Homo sapiens: one gene and its partner. The protein of the gene in region 1 interacts with the protein of each later gene in a pairwise test. Each region holds a gene or a part of one and is shown on either strand. Other genes may lie near its edges. The genes, in order: DPPA2 and FGF12.

Region 1 (3,829 bases):
GCCTTTGCACAAATTATTAAAAGGTGCCCACTGTCCCCACATAAACGAATGTAGCTTGAAGAGCAGAGGATATGCCAATTTCAACTTCAAGTCTTCCTTCTGGCTGGTTTCCTTGTATGATGAATAATGTGTCCTACCATACTAGTTAGCTGGAATAAAATAGGATCTAGAATACTTCTGGAAATGGGAAAATGGGGGAGTAAAAAAAGGATTCAAGCCAAAAAGGAAGGTGACTTGAGATAGCAGACCCTGGAAATAAAAGCAATAGCAAGAAAAGAAGAGCAGGAGTTGGAGAAAAGTGGAGTTAAGTTATCCTCAAGATTTCTTAGAGGGCCCCAGGCGCGGTAGCTCACGCCTGTAATCCCAGCACTTTAGGAGGCCAAGGCAGGTGGATCACCTGAGGTTGGGAGTTCGAGACCAGCCTGACCAACATGGAGAAATCTCGCCTCTACTGAAAAAAAAAAAATACAAAATTAGCCAGGCATGGTGGCGCATGACTGTAATCCCAGCTACTCGGGAGGCTGAGGCAAGAAAATTGCTTGAACCTGTGACCTCAGGTGATTCACGTGCCTTGGCCTCTCAAAGTGCTGGGATTAAAAGCGTGAGCCACTGTGCCCGGCCAAGATTTTTTTTTTAAAGACAGAGTCTGGATCTGTCTGTCAGGCCAGAGTGCCATGGCACAATCTCAGCTCACTGCAACCTCTACCTTCTGGGCTCAAGCCACTCTCCCACCCCAGCCTCCTGAGTAGCTGGGACTACAGGCACACACCACCATGCCCGGCTTTTTTTCGTATTTTTTGTAGACAGGGTATTTCACCATGTTACCCAGGCTGGTCTCTAACTCAGGAGCTCTAGCAATCCTCCCACCTCGGCCTCCCAAAGTTATAGGCATACAGGCATGAGCCACCAAGCTCAGCCACTACTATTCTATGAAACATGTAAATCTTCATTTTATATAACAGGATACTTGGCCGGGAGCAGTGGCTCACACCTGTAATCCCAACACTTTGGGAGGCCGAGGTGGGTGGATGGTCTGAGGTCAGGGGTTCGAGACCAGCCTGGCCAACATAGTGAAACCCCCTCTCTACTAAAAATACAAAAAATTAGCTGGGCGTGGTGGTGGGTGCCTGTAATTCCAGCTACTCAGGAGGCTGAGGCAGGAGAATTGCTTGAAACTGGGAGGCAGAGGTTGCAGTGAGCCAAGATCGCGCCATTGCACTCCAGCCTGGGCAACAAGAGCGAAACTCCATCTCAAAAAAAAAAAAAAAAAAAAAAGAACAGGATACTAAGGCTTAAAGTAAGTAACTTGCCAATGTCACATATCCAGGAAATGGTAAAGCAAGAATTTGAACCAACACATTCCTCTTATTCACTATGTCATAAATGCCTTAAGGAAGAGAGAAAGAAAAGGGGAAGACCTCAGACTGTGGTCCAAGATTATCAGGTTATGCTTAGTGATGGAAAAGGGCCACTACTCAGTCACCTGATTTAGAGACCCATCCAGACACAACATGACTATCCATCAATATGACAGATAGAAGAAAGATGTCCCATGTGAATCCAATTTCTAATCTTCAGATATTTTAGCAAATGCCTTCCCTTTGACCACGTTTCAGTCTTGGACTAATAAAAGTTAACCTTGTCCTCTGGAGTGGGACTCACACTTTAAGGTTGATCTTACCAGAGGCTTGCATCAAAAAGGCCTCAACAGAAACAGGAATGGAACATGAATTCAAAGCCTTAGGCTGAACAGCTCTTGCAGCAATTCTTGCCCATGATGCCAACATGGCTCCCGGTGCTGAAGTTATCACTTCAACTGTATTGGTCTCTTCTGCTCTCTCATTCATCTCATAACTTCTCTGAAGCCTTGCTCTCTTGGTCACTGCCTTGCGTTTCCTCGAACATCGCTGTAATCTGGTCTCTTGTGACATTTCAGGCATATCCTGCAAATGAAATTCACGATGAGTATTCAGTAAACCGCTAGGGCTGTAAGGACTTTTGGGTCAATTTTATTATTCTTTTTTTTTTTGAGACGGAGTCTCGCTCTTGTTGCCCAGGCTGGAGTGCAATGGCACGATCTCGGCTCACCGCAACCTCCGCCTCCCAGGTTCAAGCTATTCTCCTGCCTCAGCCTCCCTAGTAGCTGGGATTATAGGCATGTGCCACCATGTCCGGCTAATTTTGCATTTTTAGTAAAGACGGGGTTTCTCCATGTTGGTCAGGCCGGTCTCGAACTCCTGACCTCAGGTAATCCACCCGCCTCGGCCTCCCAAAGTGCTGGGATTACAGGCATGAGCCACCACACCCGGCCAATTTTATTATTCTTTGTACTGACCTGAACATGTATGTCAATGTGGGAAGGGTTTCGGAATATTAGTTCCCATAAACTGTAAATTCTCCACTGGGAGAAATTTTGGGTTGTTGAAACTGTGCAGGGGGAGGAAAGGTTGCAACTGACATCCAGCTGGTAGAGGCTGGGGATGCTGCAAAACATACTACAATGTACAGGGCAGCCCCCAAAACAAACAAAAAATTATTTGTTCCGAAATATCAATAATGCCACAGTGAAGAAACCCTGCCTTAGAGGTACAACACATAGATATGGTGCGACGGTAGGGACCGGACGAATCATGATCAGAACCCACCTTCACACCATCAACACACTCATTACTCACTTGCCGTTGTTCAGGGTAAGCATGCCTATGAAGCCTCAGATAAACTTCGATTTTCTTAGGAAATGAAGAGAGAGATTAAGTTAAAAGTTGACAAAGACTCCCATAATTATTCCCAGCAGCAGATATTCACCCAAGTGTACTAACCTTGCCATTAGTACTCAAACCGAGTTGTTGACACCAGTCCCGCAAAGTGTCCCGACACACCTTATTAATGGGAGGCAAAATGGTCGGCAAGGGAAGGGCTGGTATTTTGCATCTAGCTTTTTGTGGAGCTGTAAATTGCTCATTTGTTTGAAGTAGATGACCTAAGACAAGAATGGAACCAAAGTAGTAATAATTTAAAGTTGGCAAGATTATTTTAAAATTTTACAAAGATCTAGGGTCGGGCACGGTGGCTCACGCCTGTAATCCCAGCACTTTGGGAGGCCGAGGTAGGCAGATCACGAGGTCAGGAGATCGAGACCATCCTGGCTAACATGGTGAAACCCCGTCTCTACTAAAAAAATACAAAAAACTTAGCCGGGCGTGCTGGCGGGCGCCTGTAGTCCCAGCTACTTGGGAGGCTGAGGCAGGAGAATGGCATGAACCCGGGAGGTAGGGTTTGCAGTGAGCCAAGATCATGCCACTGCACTCCAGCCTGGGCGACAGAACAAGACTCCGTCTCGTCTCAAAAAAAAAATTTTACAAAGATCTTTTCACATTTCTCACAACCCAATTTGCATATACACATATCAATTTTTATTTCTCATATTAAAAATGAGGTAACAAGGCCGGGCACGGTGGCTCACACCTATAATCCCAGAACTTTGGGAGGCTGAGGCAAATTCGCCCAAATTACTTGAGGTCAGGAGATCGAGACCAGCCCGGCCAACATGGTAAAACCCCGTCTCTACTAAAAATAGAAAAATTACCTGGGCATATGGCCAGGCATGGTGGCTCATGCCTGTAATCCCAGCACTTTGGGAGGCCGAGGTGGGTGGATCACCTGGGAGTTTGAGACCAGCCTGACCAATATGGAGGAACCCTGTCTCTACTAAAAAAAAAAATTCAAAATTAGCCAGGTGTGGTGGCACATGCCTGTAATCCCAGCTACTAGGGAGGCTGAGGCAGGAGAATCGCTTGAACCTGGGAGGCGGAGGTTGTGGTGAGCCAAG
Region 2 (3,829 bases), about 83 Mb from region 1:
GCTGGGAAAACTGGATAGCCATATGTAGGAAGCTGAAACTGGATCCCTTCCTTACACCTTATACAAAAATCAATTCAAGATGGATTAAAGATTTAAACGTTAGACCTAAAACCATAAAAACCCTAGAAGAAAACCTAGGCATTACCATTCAGGACATAGGCATGGGCAAGGACTTCATGTCCAAAACACCAAAAGCAATGGCAACAAAAGCCAAAATTGACAAATGGGATCTAATTAAACTAAAGAGCTTCTGCACAGCAAAAGAAACTACCATCAGAGTGAACAGGCAACCTACAAAATGGGAGAAAATTTTCGCAACCTAGTCATCTGACAAAGGGCTAATATCCAGAATCTACAATGAACTCAAACAAATTTACAAGAAAAAAACAAACAACCCCATCAAAAAGTGGGCGAAGGACATGAACAGACACTTCTCAAAAGAAGACATTTATGCAGCCAAAAAACACATGAAAAAATGCTCATCATCACTGGCCATCAGAGAAATGCAAATCAAAACCACTATGAGATACCATCTCACACCAGTTAGAATGGCAATCATTAAAAAGTCAGGAGACAACAGGTGCTGGAGAGGACGTGGAGAAATAGGAACACTTTTACACTGTTGGTGGGACTGTAAACTAGTTCAACCATTGTGGAAGTCAGTGTGGCGATTCCTCAGGGATCTAGAACTGGAAATACCATTTGACCCAGCCATCCCATTACTGGGTATATACCCAAATGACTATAAATCATGCTGCTATAAAGACACATGCAGACATATGTTTATTGCGGCATTATTCACAATAGCAAAGACTTGGAACCAACCCAAATGTCCAACAATGATAGACTGGATTAAGAAAATGTGGCACATATACACCATGGAATACTATGCAGCCATAAAAAATGATGAGTTCATGTCCTTTGTAGGGACATGGATGAAATTGGAAATCATCATTCTCAGTAAACTATCGCAAGAACAAAAAACCAAACACCGCATATTCTCACTCATAGGTGGGAATTGAACAATGAGATCACATGGACACAGGAAGGGGAATATCACACTCTGGGGACTGTTGTGGGGTGGGGGGAGGGGGGAGGGATAGCATTGGGAGATATACCTAATGCTAGATGACGAGTTAGTGGGTGCAGTGCACCAGCATGGCACATGTATACATATGTATCTAACCTGCACAATGTGCACATGTACCCTAAAACTTAAAGTATAATAATAAAAAAAAGGTTCAAATGCTGCCAGTCATTCCTTACAGAGTTCACTCAGTGAGATTCAGTTTGAATGATTTTTCTTGACTATACTGACTAGTTGTATCCATATCACGTAAACCTAGACATTTTTCTACATAAAGGAATTAATAGATTTTTCTTTATACACTCATGTCGGATGGACGTTAACTCTTCATTTGCTATCATATCACTTAATTAACTAAGTATATTAACTCTTCACTTGCTATCATATTGAGCCTGATATATATGATGTTCACGGTTTAAATTTTCTGGCCTGGAATTCAGCAAGCTCTGACACAAATTAGCCTTATCCTTCTTATTCGTCATCACCTCCCTATTTTACCCAGTCCTGTAGTGTTTATTTTTGCACTTATGTCTCATCTGAATTAGGACTAGCTACATTGTACGTGCTCAGTGGCCACATATGGCTAAATGGATGCTATACTAGGCAGCACAGTCCTAGAATATTTTCATCAGATTTCTCTATCCTTTTCCTCGCCCTGTACCTCCTCAGTTATATCTCAACTCCCTCTTCCTTAATACAGTTCTAAAACTAATGTTTTTTATTATTGGGGAATTGCTGGCTCTTCCTATGCAAATGGAACACCTCTGGCTTTAATAGTCACTTCTTATACCTTATACTCAGGACAATTCAGGACAAGTTGTTTGTTTGTTTGCTTTTTAATTGTGGTAAAATATGATAATACAAAATTTACCATTTTAATCATTTTTAAGTATATGTTTCATTGCCGTTAAGTACATTGACATTGTTGTGCAAACATCACCATCATCCAACTCCAGAACTTTTTCATCTCCCCCAACTGAAACTCTGTACTCATTAAATAAGAAATCCCCATTCTTCCCCAGCCCCTGGCAAGTACAGTTCTATTTTTTGCCTCTGTGAACTTGACTACTCTGGGTATCTCACATAAGTGGAATCAATATTTGGCTCCTTGTAACTGGCTTATTTCACCTAGCAGAATTTCTTCAAGGTTCATTCATGTTGTAGTATGTGTCAGAATTTTGTTTTTTAGGCTGAATAATATTTCATTATATGTATAGGCCACATTATATTTACCCATTCATTTGTCAATGGACATTTTGGTGCTTCCATCTTTTGGCTACAGTGAATAATCCTTCTATGGACATGGATGTACAGATAGATGCTGGGGTCCCTGCTTTCATTTATTTTGAGTGTACACCTACAGTTGGAATTGCTGGATCATATGGTACATCCGTATTTAATTTTTTGAGGAATCACCATTTCATTTTCCACGGTGGCTGAGCCATTTTACATTTAAGTAGAAATGAATAGGGTTTCAATTTCTCCACATACTCACCAACTCTTGTTACTTTCTTTTTTGATTTTGTTTATAACAGCCATATGTTTTCTTTTATTACCATTTCTGAATGACTTTAGGAATATTTAGTGAAGTTAAGGCCAACTTAAATCTTGATTAACATACAGACATAAGAATTCAAACACTGATATGTCAGTCATTTTACATTGTTTGTTGGATAAATTATGGTATTTCTGATTTTATTCAAAACTCTTAACTAGGACCTTGAAACCCTAAATATTCATCCTGGCCCTGCCACTACTCACTCTCTGACTTTATGGAAGTGGCTTAATTTCTTTTATATTTAAAAAAAATGGGGGTGATAATTTCTCACCTACTATATTCACTGGGTTATAATTGTAAAATTTAGTTAATCAATTTAAAATTGCTTTGAATACTCTGAAATGATATTGAGGCTGCTATATACATCATGGTGATTTTCGTTTACGTTTTGCACATATAATGCACTTTAGAGAACACTTACGCCTTGTTTCCTTCCTTAATTTTGTTTCATTATTTACCATGTACATTCAGAATAGCAGTCATTAAGCGTTAATGCAACTATGGATGGTAGTAAGGCAGTTATATTACTGAAGGGAGGTACTTTATTCTTTCTTTGCTTTCTAATTGGATTATGGTCTTTAAATTATATTGTAATTCAGAAATTTGATTGAGACTTATTCCCCTTGATTTGTCAGCTTCTTAGATATATTACTGAATCCTAGGTCCTGTAAATAACAATGAAAATTAATGCTCAAGAAATTACATTTAATCTATTGCTTTGACCAAGGTTTTGCTCTCCGTATTTGTATTTGCATGCAGTTTCTAGAATAACTTTAGTTTGCTTTCTCTGAACATCTTTTTATTTTGGTTAACAGAAGTATAGAAATTCAAATACCTATTTGATTTATTGAGGAGGGGGGCAGTTTTCATCAGTGAACTGGAAAACCTACCTTTTACTTGTCGTTTTCTAACTGGGACATGAACTAGGTTTTCAAAACCGTTAATTTTATTACTCCATTTAGTGCAAAGATTGGGAAATTAGAAAATGAGTTGTATGAGAAAAAGAGCAAATTTTACATCTTGCTGTGGCACTGGTGACTTTTGGTCTTTTTGAAACACTGTATATTTTCAGATGTCAATTTGCAATACCGCTCAATATAAGGATGGCCAGCAGGGTTAAATTACTGGAAAAGTTATCTGCAGCAGTAATTATAACAGTAACATTGTGTGTTGACACAAATGAA

Evidence for each region.
Region 2: the proteins of DPPA2 (region 1) and FGF12 interact in a two-hybrid assay, tested with the Homo sapiens proteins (one large-scale study listed by BioGRID).

What each region holds. Positions count from the first base shown.
Region 1 is NC_000003.12:109,306,351-109,310,179, forward strand, and holds part of DPPA2 (developmental pluripotency-associated protein 2), read right to left. Parts: intron 2,981-3,829; coding exon 2,820-2,980; intron 2,730-2,819; coding exon 2,676-2,729; intron 1,944-2,675; coding exon 1,682-1,943; intron 1-1,681. UniProt on the Homo sapiens protein: Binds to target gene promoters, including NKX2-5 and SYCE1, but not GATA4, and may be involved in the maintenance of the active epigenetic status of these genes.
Region 2 is NC_000003.12:192,146,725-192,150,553, reverse strand, and holds part of FGF12 (fibroblast growth factor 12), read left to right. Parts: intron 1-3,829. UniProt on the Homo sapiens protein: Involved in nervous system development and function. Involved in the positive regulation of voltage-gated sodium channel activity. Promotes neuronal excitability by elevating the voltage dependence of neuronal sodium channel SCN8A fast inactivation.